Linked DNA regions of Homo sapiens: region 2 is linked to region 1. Evidence: fine-mapped expression QTL. A gene starts in region 1. The other region holds a variant in brackets. All regions are shown on one strand. Distances are between the middles of the regions.

Region 1 (10,107 bases):
AATTGTGCTCAAAGATGTTTATCAAGGTAGTATATATGATATCTTAAATAATTGGGAACAATCTGAATGTTCAACAATAGAGGAAAGCGTAAATGAATTACGATAAAATTATGCGTGGAAATGCTATGCAGCTAATGAGAAAAATATTCAAAAAGATTATTGGCTTCATATGAAAGTTATTTTAAATTTTCAGTGAAATGCACAGAATGCAAAATTCTGTACACAGTTATAATTCCATTTCTATAAAAATATGCATATAAAAAGTGAAAAGTACATCAATATGTTTATAGTAATTGTCAATTGCTCATGGTAATATGTGTTATTTTAATTCTCTCTTTTTATACTTTCCTGTGTTTTCCAAAGTTTTTCTAGAAAGCACATATGTCCAAGAAAAAAAACAAAACATTAAAACTTCAGGGCAGAGGGTCCCTGTTTTCCTGCTGAGTGGACATGCCTCAGCAGACAGTGGAAAATATTTCTAGCCTTCATGAGCAGACTCCATGTTCTGCCTGTCACTCACGCTTGATGTAAACCCTGATGATGACTCCTTCTTGCACTCCACATCATGCCTATCCTTTCCTCAACCTTGGCTTTGACTTTCACCCTTCTCTGTTTATACTAAAACACCCCTCTGGCAGTACCTCTTCTCTTCAAACCACAGTCTCCTTCCCCCTTCACCAGCTGGACCCAGTTCCATGTCCTGATCAGCTCTGGCCTGACCTGACCCACATTGGTACTGACAACAAATAAGTTACCCCCCCAAAAAACAAGCTATTTGTACCAAAGAACAGGGCAAGGAAATACAACATTCTTAATGCATTATATAAATGTATTTTATATGCATTGGACATCTTTCTTCTCACAGCCATGGTACTATACCAGGCCCACCTATAATTGATTTCTTGTTATTAGTAGGTCCCTATTGTGACAATCATCCTCAACATCTGTGCAGAGCATTCCATTTTTCTGTGCACATTCACAAACTCATAGTACATCACCCTCACACCTTTGTAAAGTGGGGAGATAAGGTATTATTTTCCTAATTGTACAGATAAGAAAACTGCAACTCAGAGAACCGGCACTGAGTGGCTTATTCCCCCTGATCCTCAGGGTGTGCTTTTCTGTAAATAGTGATGATAATACCCACCTTGTGGAGTTGTTGTAAGGATTAAATGAGATAACGTATGTAGCATGCTGAGCAAAGCATCTGGAACAGGGGCAGCATTCAACAAATGCCAGTTCCTATGACTGTTAGGTCAATGGGAAGCTCAAGGTCACATAGCAGGGAAATGACAGCACCAGGATTGAGATCCAGGCTTTTTCATGCCAAGTCCATGTTCTTTATACTTCATTCCCAACACTGTATGAGAAGTACTAAGGCATGGCCCGAGTCTTCAGAGAAATTATAATATTTTGGAACAGGCAAATCTCAGTTACATGATATAATAAAGCAATTATTCCCACAAAGAACTAAGAAACAGTGATAAAATCTAGGACCGTGTTCTAAAATAATACATTTTTTTGGTCCAATAGCTACCATTACAATGTCTTTTTATGCATACATTCCAAAGCTTAGGATTCCAAAATTTTATCCCTTGTCTTGCAGTAAGTTGAATATAGAAGATCAGATATGAAAATAAGGCTGTTTCCATCCATACTATAAAAAATATTTTCTGTGGGCATTCTGAACTGCAGGGAGTTTGAATTGTATTTGGAAGCATTTCTTTAACTTCTGGAAAGTACCATTCATGGTCACTCACTTTATCATTTTTAAGGGATTTTTGAAGTTTCCATTGAGTTTAAAGCTGCTTCCATCTTTAAAAATATTCCTCAACTAATTAATTTAACTTACAATATATGACACCTAGAGTTGGTAACAAGTGAAAAGACACAAGAACAGTGAACACTTTACAGGCAGAGGCAGAAAATTCTTCAGGAAGACAAAGCACATATCTGTGCACAGACACACACAGAACAGAAAATCATTCTGTCCCCTCTCTATTCTATGCCATAATAATAGAATCCAGTATGACCAACCTTGGCAATACTATTTCTTTATTTACAGCAACATTGGCCTCCTTATAAGCTGGCAAAAGAAGAATTGAAAACTCTGTGTTGTGGAATGTTGACGCTTCTTTATCTCTAAGAAGGTAACCTATTAATGAATACTTCAGAGATGCACATTTTGGAAGTTATTTAATGTGCTGTGTGTTTTTATACTACCAACATACACTTCTTTCTTAGATAAATAGATGATACTCAACTAAGAGGTGGCCCCTATCAAAGCTATGAAGTAGGAAACTTTGTCTTCAGAAACACTCTACCTTTCCCTTTCTACATGTCGTTTACCCTGGCGGCAAAGGGTGGGACCTCCATTTCCTGAGCACCTTCACTGAGACGGACTTGTATGTGGTGCCTGGTTTATAGTACTGCTTCAATCCTCACAATAATCTCACAATATGTGCATTAATTGCCCCAGTTTCTCAGACATGAGGAAACTCTCATAGAGTTAAAGCAACATGTCTAAAGAAAAGAAACTGGTAAGTGACCATGGAGATTCCTCTACTTTAGTGCCCAGGCAGGCAGGGTTCCCCTTCCAGGACCATGCTTCCCCAACCTCAGGCACTCCCATTAGCTCTGTAAAATGGATCAGTTCACACCAAACTATTAAGGAGAAGCCACCATTTGTGTTAATCCTCTTTGAAGTATTTCTATCCTCTAAGTGACCAGACAGGTACGACCTTAACCCAAACCAATGGTTCTAGTAGCAGAGAATTTGAGAAAGCAAACAGCAAGACTTCAGAATGTCACACTCCCTAGAGAGCATCTAACCGACCTCTTGTTCCATGAATATACAGATTTAAAATAACAAAAGCCTGAGATGGGATGTGACTTTGCAAACATCACACAGCAAATCAGGTGTAGAGCCCAGTCAAAAGCCAGGACTCCTGACTCAGTCCAGTTCTCTTTTGTGGCATCAGCCAAAAATATCCAAACCTAGGGCAAAAAACACATTCCAGGATAAAAAAGAATTATTTTAATGCTATTAATTCACATTGGTAATTCAGAATGCTGGTCAGAGCCTGGGCTTCAATTCTAGGTGCACGTCTTACAAACTGTGTGACCCACGCAAGATATCCTCTCTTTGCCTTGGTTTTCTTGTCAGTCATCTGAGAATAACAACAGTGCCTGCCTCATAAGGTTAGTGGGAAGATCAGATGTGATAAACCAGGTACAGTTCTAACTTCCTTGTGTTCAGTATGTAGTAAGCACTGAATAAATGTTAGATATTATCATTATCATTATTATCACTGTTACCACTAGTAGTAGTTCAAATAACTGAGTTCATACTACCACTTTTGGGGATAAAGGTAGAAACAACTTCCTGCTATTAAGTTTGTCTCTCCTTCTTCTCTAAAAGCAACCTTACACAGTCTCAGAAATGAAGAGAAGTAAGATCAGTAGAAGGTTAGCACCAGAAATGAAGAAATTACATTTGAAAATAAAAGTGCCTACTGAACATTTTCATTTGGTTGTTCAAAATAAAAATTCTCCATCTTTCTCAAGTCTCCTCTTATTTACTCCCTCAGTTAAAAGCCTGACCATCCTCTAGACATCTAAGCTTCTCCTTCCATACCACCATCCACTTGGTGACCAATGCTACCGATCCTCCCCCTGAAATGGCTCTGTATAGATCTCTTCTCTTTCCTCCAGGCCATCTGGTTCAGGCACATTTCATAAGTTTTCTGGTTTTTGTTTTGTTTTGGTCTGTGCCACTCCAATGGTCTAAAGTCTCCTCATTCCTTTTTGCAACCCCACCTCCTCACACCTCCACAGTCACTTTTGCAAAATGTAAGTTAGATGAAATCATTCCTACCATTAAGGGCCACATGGTTTCTCCTCCTTAGCAGGGTATATTCACAATCCAGCTTCAGTGAAACCTTTCTAAACATTCCTGTCTTCCCTCAGAACATGTAGGTGTCCTCTGAATGTGACCTTTCTGCCATGTGTGTATGCTGTTCCTTCAGTGTGGAATACCCAGCCCCTTCTCTAGACAACTCCTACCACCTATTGGGATCCAGACCAAATGTAAACTCTTCTTTAAACTCTTCCAGATTCCCTCCACTCTTTCTTCTGTTGGCTCCCATTAAACTTGTTTCTGTCTTCATTAAACACTCATGATGTTGAATCATTACCATTTATTTTCTTCTCCTTTTCTGCTAAATTGATTTCTGGGAGGCATGGGCCTCATTCTTTTAGCCTCTGGCACAGGACCTACAAAGCACACAGGAGGTGCTCAACAAATAATTATTGAATTGATCGAGTGGATGCTACAGAACGTAAAATAGGAAAATGAGACCTCGGTGATTGTCAATGTTAGTCTCAATAAAAAGAATTTGTGATATGTATGACTGTCTGCAAATGATTACACAAGTGGTTTTTAACACCGTGATGTGCACTTACAAATGAGAAAGCTCTCGAGTTCCCACTTCTGTCTGTTACACGTTCATCACTGGAGAAAGAGTCATGCCCTCCCAAATTTAGGTGAGTTCTGGAGGACCTGCACACACTAAGCATTTTGAGAGCTCTCAGAATCATGTAGCTTTAGATGAGAACACTTTTCCCTCACAAAATTCTATGGACTGGACTCAGGTAGTAGATGCTCAGTAAATGCTGATTTGATTTGCAGTGGATTTGAATGCAAAGTGCAACTCACATTTTAGACTAATTGAACTCAATGGCTGATCATACTTAATATAATAGCTCTAAGGCTAAAGAAAATCAATGACTACACTGAAAAGCAGCCAAATGCTCACTCTCCTGCCTAGTTGACAGTCAATGCTGACCTGCCTCTTGATCCTTTCCAGCTTTTGGGTATTTCCAACTTCACTGTGCCCCCAGAATGCAGAGGCCGGTTAGCAAGTGTTGCGTGGTACCTTGTGGTACATTTGTTCTTCGTTTTGAAGTGATGTAATAAAGGATAACAAAGGTGTGAAACTTGAGTTGCACTGTTAAAGTTGTCCTACATTTCCTAAAGCCTCCCCTCTGCATGATAAGTTGAGTGAAATTCTGGCTGAAGGGAGAGAGAAGTGTGAGCTGGAATGCTGTGACATCCCTTCATCTCCAATTGTGGAAAACTGTGGGAATGCATATTAAAGGAACCCCAGAAACTTTTGTTTTTACTAAACTGAGACTTAAAAAAACTTCATTTGGCAGTTGAACACCTCTATCCCATTGTAAGAAACAGGAAAGATTCAAAGCATGCATTCTGCTATAATTCATTTTGGGATAAGAAATAGGCAGAAGTACCTCGAAGAATAAATCATTAACTAAAAGGCAAACCGAGGCACCCTGGAAACCAGCGAGACCTGGAGGCGGCCGAGGGATCAGGCGGCTGGGATTTGCCTGTTCCCTCTGGTGACTTCTGGAGCGAAGCATCCCACAGGCAGGACGAACCCGGCACACTGCGCTCCGCTCCATTTCACTTTTCAAACTTGAAGTTATTTTTAGATGACCCAAGGCCGCTAATCCCAAGCAGGACAATTCTCAGCCCGCTGCACCTCAGTGCACCTACCCCCTCCCCAGCCTCTGCATTGGGAAGAAGGGATCTCTCGATCTTCTTTGCTCTCTGCATCCAGTTAGTCTCTTCTAGACCCTCTCTAAGCCTCAGTCCCGGGGATCACAGGCGTCATCCTCGCTCCTTCACTTATGCACCTGCTGCTGCTTCCAGGAAGGCAAACCCCCGGGCCACGGGCAGTGGGGAAGGGGCTCCTTTGGACCCGCGCCCCCTAGAGGGGGGTCGCGGGAGATCTCCGTCCCCACGGCCGCAGCCGGGACTGACCACAGATCTGGAGACAAACCCCACCCCCGCCACTGCCCCCACCCCCGCCACCGCCCCCGCCCCCGCCCCCGCCCCCGCCCTGCACCCAGACCCGGCCCGGAGACCAGATCCCCGCCGCGGACCCCCGGCACGACCCCGGGGCTGCTGTCAGCCCCGGCGGGACGGGGTGCCTGGGCGAGCCTGGCCGGCGCGGTTACATAACCGACCTGCTGGGCGTCCGCGATGCGCCGGCGGAGGCGGAGGCGGAGGCGGCGGCTGGGGCGTCTACGGGGGCCAGCTGCTAGCGCGCGGCGCTGCCTGCTCACCTGCCCGCCGGTGCGAGCGCGTGGGGGCGGCGCGGTGCCCGCGGGCCTTTGCGTGGGGCCGTACGCGGCGCGGCGCGCCCCGCCTCCCTCTCTCTGCCGCCGTGGGTCAGTGGGATTCTGCCTGCTGCCCGCTCCTCCCCGCAACCTCCGCCGCCGTCACCCGGGACAAAGCGGCTCCAGGGAGGGGCTGAGCCGGCGGCTCTCGCAGGAGCCGGCGGAGATGGGCGCGTCCCCAGCTCCGACTCATCGGGCCAACCTCCAATCAGACCCAGGGAAACCGAAAGCCCCTGTCTGGCCTCTTCTCATCTCCTCCCTCCTGACCCGGCGCCCTCCCCAGTCCCCTACCCACCGCACCTCCGGGGCTCTCACCCTGCCCTCAGCCCCGCACCCCCTCCTTTCCACTTCAGGTGCCCGGGAGGGCGCAGGAGCCTCCGGGCACCTGGCGTGGGAGCCTGGCTGCAGGAGTCCCGGCCTCAGCGGGAAGAGGCTCCTCGGGGTCCCATACTAAGCTGAGGGTGAGGGGGCAGCGACAGCCCAGAAGAAATGGTCAGAGAAGCAAACTGTGGTGGGGGAGTACTGGGAGAAAGACTCTTCTTACCAGATGTCTGAGCCCCCCGACTCTGGCTAACTGAGGAAATGTCGGGGAGCCCCTGGATGGTCCTCCCGGGCTTCTGCGCTTGGTGGGCGCTGGCGCCCTCTGGCTGGAGCCCTGCGCCCGGCCCAGCCCAGGCCGCTGAGGGTGCCCTGCGCGGGCTTCACAGCTTTGCCAGGATTTGCAGCCATCAGACCTGAGGACAGAAGGGTTCGGGCTGCAAGGAATCCTATTGTGTGAGAGCCATGACACAGTGAGTGGGAGGTTGGTATCCTACAGCAAACGGGACTGAAGGTGAATCGCAATCTAGGGTAGATCTGTTGCTCAACAAAGTTAACCCCAGTAGAAGTCTCTGCTTTACGGAATAAAGCAACTCAAATGGGTAAGGAAGCCTGTGGCTTACGGGTGGCACAGATAGGAACAGGACTGAGTCTCATGGCAAGAGAATGTGAATTATGCAAAAGATCATAGGAGAGTGCGGGAAATTAAAGGAAGGAGGTGTGCAGACCAATCTGAGGGAGGGAGTGAATAACATTTAAATCAGGTTTGTGTTCTGTCATCTTTCGAATTGCTGCATAAATAAGCCGTTTTCTTTTTGCTTTTTATGCCTTTTGATTTTCTGATAACAATATTACGATTGCACTGAAGCAGTCCATTCACAATCATTCTTCACTTACCCACACTACGTTGTTTTTTTCCAAAGTTGACATACAATCACGTTTTGTTTGTTTTCAACAAAAAAAGGTAGACGAGACGTTGGCTCTTCTCTCTGATTAATCTGCATTAACATAAACACAATTTCAGAATTGAAAATGACCTTAGGCTTCCCCTCGTTCAGCCTTCCCCTGGATGCATAAATCTGTAATTAGTCGTTGATTTAGATAATTGCCATTTGGGTTAGAATTGTCTGAAAGGGCATTCTTAAGTTGAGCAAAAACTTGCCTCCCTTTAATCATTAGTTCTCCCTTACTTTTTGAAGCCAAAGAAACCAAGTCAAATTCCTCTTCTAACTATCTTTAAAATATGTAAAAATAGCTAGCATGTCTAATGCACTCCAGGATCCCCTTTCTTTCCAAGTAAAGCATCCCCAACCCTTTAAACAAAATCTCACTTATTATTAGTGAGTACTTCCTAGAATCTTCGTCAAACTGATGACTTTCATCTTAACAGGGACTATTTATTATTTTGTGAATATACATTTACAAATAAAATTTTCAGCTTATAGAAGCAATATATTCATTGCAGAAATTTTGAAAAGTTGGAAAAACACAGGATTTAATCTGAGAACTAAATGAGGTAATACATGTAAAACACCTAAGCACAGTGCCTGGCACACAGTGATACTCAATATATGTTAGCTGTTACCAAAATCAACATAGCCATTTTCCTAACACCAAATATAGATATTGTTACTTTTCTAGATGCTGTTTCTGAGTTCTCATAGCCACATATTCCTCCTTCTACTGCTAAGAGAAATTCTGTGTTTGTCAGTTTGTGTGAAGAAGGAAGCATAATAAATGAGGAAAAAAATGAAAAGTGACAAACAGCCTCATGTTGTTTACCTTGAGAAGAACAAAATGTTACTAGCAAAACAAATGTTAATGGCAAGAAGAAAATACAGAGAGAAAAAGAGTTTATGGGATGGGGTCTGAGCTTGAAGAGGATTTTGGAGAGCAGGAGTGAGGCTAAAGGGTAGCTAATGTTAAGGATGGTGGTAAATAAGATCAGAATTTTGGTTTGCTAACATTTATTGAGCATTTAGTATATGCCACGCTCCAAGCCAATGAATTTTTATACATTAATTCATTTCACTTTCATGGCAACTCTATTAGATAGGTACTATAATTAACCTATAGTAAAGAAAGCACAGAAAGATTAAATAAATGACTTGCTGAAGCTAACAAGTGGAAAGCTGAATTCACACCTAGACAACCTGGCTTTGGAGTCCCCACTAGACTAGACTGCCTCTCAATGGTTGTATGTGACATTATAAATATAAACTTTTAGGTTCACAGGAAAGTTGAGCAGAAAGAACAGAAAACTCCCATATACTGCCTGCCCCCACATATGCATAGTCTCCCTGACTATCAAAGTCTGACACAGGAGTAATACAATGAATAAAGCTACATGAACACAACATTATCAACCAAAGTCCGTAGTTTACAGATCCACTCTTGGTGGTGTACTTTTTTGAGTTTAGACAAGTGTATAATGACCTATATCCACCATTATAGTTTCACACAGAATAGCTTCACTGCCTTAAAACTCCTCTGTGCTCTGCCTATTCATTCTATCCTCCCCACTAAGCTCTGGCAACCACTGAATTTCTAATTGTCCCCATAGTTTTGCCTTTTCCAGAATGTCATATAAGTGAATGTCATTTCAGATTGGCTTCTTTCACTTAATATGGATGTAAGTTTCCCTGTCTTTTCATGGCTCAAATAACTCATTTCTTTTTAGCACTGAATAATATTTCATTGTCTGGATATACCACAGTTTATTTGTTCATTCACCTGTTGGAGGACAACTTGATTGCTTCCAAGTTTTGACAATAAGTAAAAAGTTGCTCTAAGTATTCATGTGCAAGTTTTTGTGTGAATGTAAGCTTTCAACTTGTTTGGGTAAATATCAAAGAGTGTGATTGATAGATCATATAGTAGGTTTAATTTTGTAAGAAACTGACAAACTCTGCTGAAGGGGCTATACCATTTTGCATTGCCACCAGCAATGAATGAGACTTCCTGTTACTCCACATCCTCACCAGCATTTGGTGTTGACAGTGTTTGGGATTTCCACCATTCTAATTGGCATCTCATTATTTTGATTTGTAGCTGCCTATTGACATGATGTTGAGAATTTTTATATGCTTATTTGCCATTTGTCAAACTTATATGCTTAAAGCCATTTGCGGTGCCTTATTTGCCATCTTCTTTGGTGAGGCGTCAGTTCAGATCTTTTGCCCATTTTTTAATCAGATTATTTTCTTATGTTGCTTTTCTTGTTTTCTATTGGTAAGAGTTATTTTTGTATTTTGAATAAGAGTTCTTTATTAGATATGTCTTTTATAAATATTTTCTCCTACCTGGTACTTGTCTTCTCATTCTCTTGACAGTGTCTTTCGCAGAGCAGTTTTTAGTTATTTACTTATTATTTTTTTGAGGTGGAATCTCGCTTTGTCACCCAGGCTGGAGTGCAGTGGCATGATCTTGGCTCACTGCAACCTCCGCCTTCTGGGTTCAAGCAATTCTTCTGCCTCAGCCTCCCAAGTAGCTGGGACTACAGGCACGCACCACTGCGCCTGGCTAATTTTTGTATTTTTAGTAGAGACAATGTTCCACCATATTGGCAAGGCTGGTCTTGAACTCCTG
Region 2 (10,107 bases), 170 kb before region 1:
AGATCATTAATTTTAACTTTCAGTTTTGCATTAATTCATTTATTTCCAAAATGGCCTCAATTCTAGTCCATGTTATTACCGGAGAAATAGCAACATTTGTTTTGCTGGAGGGTTAGAATCTGTTATACACATGCCATCTCTCTTGCCACCTCACACACACACTGCCTTTTGTTCTTCATAAACCAAAGATGGTCTAGAGATGTATGACAAAATATTATTTTTAATATTACTATTATGGTCATTGAATAGGGAATGAGCATTTCAGTTGACTTCACGTTTTGGTTACTGAACGTTAATTACCATGAATACCTCTAGAGGGTTTACCATTTCTGAGGATTAAATCATATACAACTCAAACACTTCTAAGTTACTGAGTGAACACAATGGTTTTTGAAAATTCTTAAAGAGCTTTAGAGCTCTGCAGAGCCATAGGTCATGATTGGTTGTGCCCAGATCCTTACCCTAGTGCTCGCAAAAAACTTAAGAAATGGGCATGAAGTTCAACCAGCTTTCTTGACCAACACCCACCTAAGTTTCTCTTCCAAAACAATTCCTGAACAAGTGACACATACTAAATTGTGTCACTTGTTTCTCCTCAAAGCAGAGTACAAAGTGCATCATACCAACTCAGCCTCATCCTTCTCCTCCTATCACTCTCACCATACAAAACAAGTGATTTGAAATGTCCAGTGGTTTGTATGACAGAGAGATTTCATTGTACTCAGTGGCCATGATGTGCTGGTCTTTTTCATAACTCACACAACAGCATAAAACAAATAGACTCTGACTCAGTCAGGTATACTATCGTGTAAAAAGAAAAATAAAATGCACAGAGCAGTAGGGGATTTTTCTCAGCATGATTATTTTGCATCCAGAAAGGCTAAGAGATTGTCCCAGGTCACATGGATTGGGAGGATGTTGAGAAATTCTCAAAAGCAGAGGAGAGAAAGTAGGATTTATGAGTGACCTTAAAAAGGCCTTGGCCTTTCAGAAGAGAAAAGAGCTGTCCTGTAGCAATCCTAAGATTCCAAGCATATGAAGAATTACTGTGCTGAAAACACACTTCTACTTGTATTTACCCTTACCCTAAGAGAGCTATTGGGCTTAAAACGTAGCATGAGGGAATTAGGTTAAGTACAGTTTTCTGAAAAAGAGTCTCCTTAAAAAAATAAATTATAGCTTGAGACAGTGACCGTCTCAATGGGTACCTAAATGAATGAATGATTGAAACAGGTTAAATAGTGCTGGTGGGGGGACTAGGTAGGAGCACATCAGATAAGATGGCTAAGATGGCCTCTCTTTCTACCTACTATTCACTCTATGTGGAATGATTTTCTCTCAGCTCTGTACATGGCTCTCTAAATTTCTTTAGATCTCTGAATGACATTGAAACAATGACATTTAATAAACTGTCACTTCCCCAGAGATGTTTCCAATGGCAATCTTTTCAAAAGTGGCCATTCCTCCCCCATCAATGCTCTATCTCTCACTCTGCTTCATTTTTGTTCATAGCCCTCATCACTAGCTGAAATTACCATGTATATTTACTTGTTTACTATTTCATTGTCTGCATCTCATGTTAGAATATATGCTCCGTGAGGGCAGGGACGTTTATCGAACTCCTAGGCCTAGAGCATTGCCTGGTAGGTAATAAATGCTCCACACATGTTTTTGAATGAATGAACAAATCTCTCAAGTGCCAAGGGTCTTTGAAGCTTCTGTATTTCTTATAAGATTTGTCATGTTTCCTGCCTGCTCTAATGAGCGGAAGGGAGCTTTGTGAATTCCTTGTGTCCTACATGGATGCCCATGGAGACAAGGCTGGAAACCTGGTACATGAATCAGAAGCCCTCCAATCTAGAGAGAAGGAACCCACCCTTTCTTCTGTGCAGGAAGCCACCATTGCAGAGAAGGGGCAGCCCCAGGTTTGGATGCCCCCTGGCAGAGTGGTGGCACTCTGCAGCTCTGAGAAGGCCCCCCACAGTGGCCAGCAGTAAAGAAGAGCATTTGCTGTTGGCTCAGAATCAGGTGAAGGAACTGCAGGTGTGGAGAACTGAAGTGTTGGGTGAGCGTCAACATTTCTGACAGCTCAGAGATACCGTTTTTAAAACTGCATACATCAAGTCTTAGCTGGGGAGATAAGGATCCAAGTGCTTAAGCAGAGCTTACTCTAGACAATTCTTGGCTGACCTCACCTGTACCTACTTGTGCCTGAAAGAGACAAGACACTGGCTTTATATGATTACCTATGCCTGGGCTCCATTCAGACCAGCCAGGTAAAAGTTCTGGGGGTGGGGCCTGGGCACATTAATATTTTTAAAAGATCTCCAGGGGACACCGATGTGCAATCAGGTTTAAGAACCACTGGACTAAAGTGAAATGTAAATTTCGTTACCAATCTCTTGGATCTCTTTCATTTTCCCAAGGGTTTGGCTCTTTGTGGAGTGGGTAGACTATTTTCAGAAATATGAGAATACTGGAGAACATCAACCCTGCACATTCACACACACAGAAATTCTGCAGTTCCCCTATAGCATTTTCTATTGAGGGCTCTCAACTTCTAGATCTTTCTGAGAACTCTCACATTGCAGAACAGACGGCTAAGTTCACAACACCACCAATGGAATTTCCAGAGAAAGCCAAATATGGCAGAATTCCATTTGTCTGATTTCCTCCTCTTTTTAGTATTATTGCTTGAGCAGCTTTGATGAAATTTAGGAAACTGGAGTCAGAAGGGCCCCTAATACAATCAGCTGAGAGCCACACTGGAGGATGAGGCTTTCTGTGTCACTATGGGAAACTAGATTTGTGGATGCTTCTACCCATTTCAAATAAACTCCCATACTTATGAAGGAGGCCTGCTGGTTGCATCCCCCTAGTATGGCTGCTTGCCCATGGGGGCTACATGTAGAAAGTGGGGATGCCTATTAAACAAACAAGACTGAGATTAAGCAAGATGGATGTAAGCAGGTGAGACAGACCCTTTCCATGTGCCTCCCTTTTCTCTGACAATAAACCTTAAAGATTTTGAAGAAGGAACTCTTGGCTCCACCAGTTATTAGTAATGAATGAAGAAGACAGATACCTTTGGGGAAGCTTTGTTTGGTGCCTAGAATTTTACGTTTGAACCTTTCTTCGTGATAAGAGTAATGGTCAGTTTTGAACAAGGAGCGCAGGTTTTCTTAACACATAACATTTGGCCCACCTTAATTTGTTCATTTTCCCCCTTTTTAATAAGCACAACGTAGATCTTTGCTTTTTAATAATGTTACTGCTTTACATTAGATGATTAAATATCAAAAATGGAAAGCCATGTTTTCTAAGTGGCTAGAGTGTTTGTGTGTATTGGGAGTGGGGTGGGAGGGAAAACATTTTCTGTGTGCTAGACTGTCATTGTAAACTCAGCTGGATTTAGGACATTCTGATAAACTGGTAAAAGTTACCTATCACTTTCAGAGAGTGCCTACAAAGATGACAATGATGACGATGGTGATAGCTAACATTTATTGAGCATTAAATAGGAGTCAGGCACTGTGTTAATTATTCTACATGTAAAATTCTCTTGTCTCTAAGCTAATAAGGTAGAAATTACTACTATTCTCACATTATATGAGAAGACTAAGGCCCAGAAAGATTAGGTAACCTTTCTAAAAAAAAAAAAAAGAAAAGAAAAAAGCCCATGATGATTCAGAGCTATTGGCAGTAAATACATGTAGCACATATTTCTGGTAACAGTCTTCCTCGAAAAACCTCATAAATTTATGAAGAACAGCATCAGCTGTTCACCATCTAGCCCTGACTCACCTCCTTTCCCGTTTGCCTCTAATCTCTCATAGAGAACCTACTGCAGTCAAAAGAATTGACTCACTAGACTGCAAAATGCTGTGCCTTCTCTCTTTCTGTATAAAATCTACCCATCTTTAAGTATCATTTTTCCATAAAACCACCCCAACCACTCACATACAACCAGCTGTAACAACTTTGTATCCTCTTAATTCCACAAAATATTCTTTGTCTTTAAAGAAACCTTCGGCAGTTGGTTATTTTTATAGCTATATCATAGATACATATGCCATATAAGCATATTTTAAACTTTTTCCTATATAAGCACAATGCCTGGCATGTTGCAGATCTCCAATAAATATTTTCTCATTATCTTTTCTGAAACGAATAAAGTTTAGAATATTTTATGACATTCTCAGGGCAAGTGTGTAAACAACAGATAACTGTTGAGGACAGAAGGGAGCTGTGAAGTTTTATTCTCCATAGATGGAATTATGTTCCAGTGGTTACTGGAAGATGTCTCTCTACCTGGTTACCCACACTGGACTTGACGCTGGCTTTAAATGACTGCTCTCCCTTCTCAAGTGCTATGGAAGTACGACTGGCAGGACTGTGGGTCTCTGCATGCATGTTTCCATTCTCAATGCAATCACAGACAGTGCCAAACCTTTATGTCCTTATTTTCTGAACCTTCATATGACAGGTGGTAGACATTTCCATGGCACTGACACAAAAATTAGTAAATACAGGGCTACATGTTTAAAATATTCAGGAACAAAATGCCAGATTATCAAATCTATTTCAAAAGATTGTTAAAGCTGCAATCTTGAATGACATAGCCATGTGCTATGCCAAGAACACATAAATCCCCACCTGTAAAGCACCAGGGTGTCACCTGCACACCCAACAATAAAGAATTCAGGGTTTTTCCTTAAGTTAAGACTAAAGCAAGGATGGTAAATGATTATGCAATGTAATTCACCTTTTATTCCTCCCACCACACAATGAACAACTGACCTTCTGTGCGTGTATATGTGTGAGTGAACTGTTTAAATAAGAAGCTTCAGCTAGTTCTTCTATTAAATATGAGAGAAAAAATAAACATTTCCATTTTGCAAGCCTGGCATCTTCTCCATAATATAAAGCCAAATGGAAAATAAAAGGGAATGAATATCATCAGAGGACGATTACCTATGACAAGTCAACAACTGCTGCCGGCAATCAGTGAGGACCAGCATGTATAATACTAAGCCTTAAGATGCGAAATATTTATGCCTAAACTTTATGAACAACTGCTCAAGGAAAATGACTTGCTTTCTTTGCCTGACAAAGAAAATTTAGGCAGCTGTTCTCCAACTTTGATTTCCAGAAAGCTGGGGACTGAAACTGCCATCTGTAGAACAGCTATTGTTTAATTTGAAGACCACATCACAGGATATTTAAGTGACATGCCAGAAAGGGTTATTGCCCCACTGTCAGGCTGGCCTGGATGCTGGGTTTATTATGTGTGCTTTCTTCATGTAATCATTGATTCAAAATCCCTCTTGACATTGAGGGCTGGAAAATTCTCCTTATTGACAAAGATACAATATGAGAATATGAAAATGTGTCTACTCAGAAAGGACTGACCAGGGATTACCTAATAAAAAAGACAAGAAGAAACAATGGCAGACCTTGTCATATTTAAAAATAATATGCTGGTCCCTCTTCCAACTTATTCTACTTAATGCAGCCATGCACTCACTACATGCATTTCTAGCGCAGACTATGAGCTGAAAACTATTAACCAAAGTCTTATTTCTTCATGCTAAAAAGGCTCTGCCAAGCAGCGTCAGTAACAGCAACAATGAAAAATAAGATTGCAGGTGCATACCTTAACCTCCTGATTGGTAAAGACCTCGACATCCACCACACAGGCAACCAGAGTGGAAACATCACAGTCCATGCTAGGGGCTGGCATTCCCCCTTCTGAATTTTTAATAAAGAGTTAGGCAACCTCAGAGTTGGGAGTGAAGGGAAGAGCTTCCAGATGGATATTGCTGTGGCCAGGCCTCGGTGCTGCCTTGCTCTGGGGACGGCTGGAGGCTCGGGCTCCTGGAGCCCGCTCCCACTGCACGCAGCCCTCCGCGTCTGAGGCAGCACAGCAGAGTAACGAACGGCCCGGCTCGCTCATGGCAATGACATCACCACAAAGACTGACACAAGCTGAAGCTATTTTTTTTTCTCCAAGCCTTTTATCTCTAGGCAGTGCAGTGGAGCAAATTGAACATGATTATGTGCTAAATCTGAACTCAGACTAAATCAATTCAAGCAGCGTTAGCTAGGAACTGAGTCATAGCTGTTGTTGCAGCCGAGTGCTTA[T/C]GTTTGCAAAAAGCAGGAGGGGGTGAATCTGACACCAGAGTTTCTTCTTTGAGGTGGGGGAGGTGTAATTCTGCAGATGAGCCTCCTGAGGTTAAGGTTTGACAATTTTCTGCCTTCGAGATGAGCAGGAAGTTGAGGCATTTTGCAAATTGCTTGGCTTCTGTTAATTGCTCTGTGCCACTCAGAGCAGCCACACATGTTCTGGGCATCCTAATGCATCCCGGGCATGGGCTGAATAGAAATCCGTTCTTGGAGTGACTAAAGAGCTGGTCGTCTGTCATTTAGGGAGCATGGTAAGAGGAGATAATTAGAGGTTTGTGGAAATTCTATTTGAAGGCTATAAGTGCAGACCAGTAACGCTAAGAGCACCCTTCCAAGCTCAGGATTTCAGGCTGTCTCCAAGGTCATTCAAACCAAAAGCAGTTCATGGAAAGGAGTTACAGCAAATATTTCACACGGGGACAGATGGCAGGGTCTAACGGGCAAACTCACTGATGTGTCTCAGAGCTTGTCAGATCCTCGGGGCTTGACTTCACCTGAGACTTTGAACACATCCTTTTGCTTTCTCAGGCTTTTTTCCTGATTATAAATCCCTGAGGGGCAAGGCCACAGATGATTTACCTTTATATCTTCAGTCTTTCACAGATTGCCTGGCACAAGAAGATGATACTTGTTTAATAAATAAATCAATCAAACAGGAATAGCCTCCTTTCACAGGAGTGACCAAAGGAAAAATTTCCAATTGTTTTTTATTTTATCATTAGTTATACAAGTCCCAGTAGAACTCACTAACATTGTAGCAGTATCTATCCTTAAGAGTTCAGTTGTATCTTCAGTGGCCACTGGAACATCCTGATTTATAACAGATTGGTACTTTTCTAACATATGACTGGACAAAAGCCTCCCAATTTTACATGCAGATGAGAAAGGTGACATTTCAGACTGAGAGTAGAAGCTTTCTCATTTGTCCTCATTGGTGTACACTTGAGTCCAATGTTCCCCTTCAACAAGGCATTTTCTATGCTAAAGGTAATCAGGCCACAAATATGGATATTTAGACTGATGAAACTGTGTGTGTGTGTCTTTGTGCATTTGTTCAAGTGGCATTTATTTCGCTGTCCAGGACACTGTGGGAAATATTAAGTCATATATGCATATAATCCAACTAATATCAAGTAATGACTATGCAAAGCTCTGCATCTGATACTCTCAAGGATAAAATGATGAAAAAGCAAATGTCACTATCATCAATGGGCTTAAAATCCAGGGGAGGAGATAAGACATGGAGACCAACATTTCACAAGGCAGGGATGGTGATGGCTGAATAGGTATAGGAAGTGTTCAGTGGGAGCACTGGAGAAAGAGCAATGAATGCTGAATGCTGGATCCCATGTTAGGATGGCAGGTGAGCATCAAAGAAGGGGAGGAAATTTCTGCTCTGACCTTGAAATACGGGAAAGATACTGGCAGACAGAGAAGTGAGGGGTGCCCTTCAGCTAGGTAAAAACAGACTAGAAATGTCCAAAGGAAAGAATAAGGCATTTGGATGCAAAACTCACTCAGGGTTAAATCTGGCTGGAGCCTGAAGTATACAAGGCAGCCGGAGCCAGATGATGCAAAACCTGGCCAACATGAAGTACCAGGCAGCTTTTGAAAAGGTAAATGGGGGATCTACCTGTACAAGTGTAGCTAAAATGTAAAGTAATACAAAGATGAATGTGATTTTGAATATCACTGGCATCTGTTCAAGAGGCAAAACAAAGAAATGAATATTTTTTCATATGCCATGGCATATCCTAAAATTTATTTTTTACATTTCACAGCATACTGGTAAATGTTTAACAATCAGCTCTCTGAAAAGAAACATTTCAATTTTTAGCATTCGTCAATTTCTATGGTGTAAATATGCTCATCATGGCTGATTTCCAGCAGTCAGTGTGAAGTCAAACTGAATACAAAGTTGGGAAGACATGCATGTAATCTGCTCACACGGGCTGTTCCAGCACATCACTGTTTCATACTCATGAAAACGTTATGCCATATCAGTGACAGTTCATCCATAGAGGCAAAGTCCACGTGTGCCCAGAGCCCATCAAGAAACAACAGCAAAGTAGAAGCAACACATTCTAATCATTGCTCTGTTTACATAAGGGGCTGTATGAATTATTTCACACTTTATGTTTAGGAAAGAGCTATAAAAGATAAACATTGCTGTGATATGCCCTGACCAGAGGACATTATCCAGGAAGCAAAGCCCTACTTGAAGTTGTAAAATAGGCAGTTTTTTTTTTCTGATGTATCCTCAGCTTTCCCTTTCTAATTTGATTCTGCCCTACAGATTCCTTCCTGCTATCCAAGCACCCACTAACTTTATGCTTTCCTCTTTTAAAATATCTTTTCAAGGACAGTTGTCAACTCATCTGTATAAGCATTAAATGACTGATAACTCATAGTATTATCCCTCCCAGAGGAATACATATTTTAATAAGAGACAGAGTCTTAAGTTGGGCAAATTGTGTTTTTAGGGCAGAGTTCTAGGCATCAAGAGCAGATGATTTGTGGGGCAAAGGAACTTTCCAGTAACTCTGAACTAAAATTAGTGGGTTTTAAACCCCCAACTTATTGGGTTTTTAATAGTCATTCGTCTATACAATATGGTCATTTTCCTATTGGCTAGAGAGCCCAGGAGGCTCTCCTGTTATAACAGTGTCCTGTTTCTCTAGAGTTTTGTTTGTTTGTTTGTTTGTTTGAGATACAGTCTCATTCTATCACCAGGCTGGAGTGCAGTGGCACGATCTCAGCTCACTGCAACCACCACCTCCTGGGTTCAAATGATTCTCCTGCCTCAGCTTCCCTAGTAGCTGGGACTACAGGCACGGGCCACCACGCCCAGCTAATTTTTGTATTTTTAGAAGAGATGGGGTTTCACCATGTTGGCCAGGAGGGTCTCAATCTCTTGACCTCATGATCCGCCCACGCTGGCCTCCCAAAGTGCTGGGATTCCAGGCTTGAACCACCACCCCTAGCCGAGAATGTGTTTTTTTATAGCTAGGGGCTGACTTGCAGCCTTGGAGGTGTCTAGAATATAGATACACTTTGGCCAATGGCTACAAGGCCTTGTAAACACTAGACTTGGATTATTCTCCCACTTCATCTCATATCATTCTCACCTTTCTTCACTCCTCTTGTTCCAGCCCAATTGGCCTTATTGGTGTTCCAAAAAAAAAGAAAGAAACAAAGGAAAAACTTCCAAGCTCATTCCCATCTCAGGCCCTTTGCACTTGCTATTCCCTCTCTCTGAAAATATTCAGATCTCTTCATGGCTTGCTCCTTCTTATCATCTGGATCTCCGCTCAGATCACATCTCTTTGGAAAAGTATTCCCCAATCAGCTAAAATAAAAATTGTGTGCACATTTTTACACACACAGAGTCAATCACTATCCTGGCATCTTCATTTTAACTTTCTTCACAGCACTTTTCACTACCTGAAATTATTCTGTTCATTTATTTCTTTATGTGTCCACTGCTTGTCCTCACAACTAGAATTTAATCTCCATAAAAGCAGAGATTTTTGCCTATTCTGCTCCCTGCTTATTCCCAGGGGCTAGAAGGATGCCTGACACTTAGGAGTTACTCTAATAAACATCTGAAAGATGAATGGATAAATACACAAATGAATCTAAAAAGGCAAGTAGAGAGACTCAAACCAATAGAGGTGCCTCCTAGATCCAGGAGTTGCAGGGAGGCTTTTGCAGAAGGGCTGCAAAGGCATGGTGAGTTCGGTGATAACCTCTCATCTCTGAGAGCTGAGTCCTGGCTTAGCTCTGTTCAGGAGTGTCCTTTCCAGCTGAAGTGGCCAGAAAACCTTGGGATTCATCCAAACCACTGCTCTTGCAATGACCGATCACACTGAGGAAAGGATGCATTATGCACAGACCCCTTGGACAGAGGCCATTGCCCTC

What was found.
Region 2: its variant is fine-mapped to the expression of RCAN2 in whole blood (TOPMed, PIP above 0.99).

Annotation. Positions count from the first base shown.
Region 1 is chr6:46,485,125-46,495,231 of GRCh38, forward strand. RCAN2 (regulator of calcineurin 2) reads right to left here and starts at 6,325. Exons shown (of 5, transcript NM_001251974.2): 1 at 6,049-6,325. It overlaps RCAN2-DT (RCAN2 divergent transcript), which reads left to right and starts at 6,928. Exons shown (of 3, transcript NR_125837.1): 1 at 6,928-7,003. RefSeq lists an enhancer at 2,547-3,159 and silencers at 6,288-6,377, 6,888-6,947.
Region 2 is chr6:46,319,737-46,329,843 of GRCh38, forward strand. The region is part of intron 2 of RCAN2 (regulator of calcineurin 2); the gene reads right to left. All of the region lies in intron 2 of LOC101926915 (a long non-coding RNA gene), which reads left to right. Among named protein-coding and RNA genes, the nearest start is that of ENPP5, 150 kb to the left of the region's middle. The variant T/C (reference allele first, on the strand shown) is at 6,145.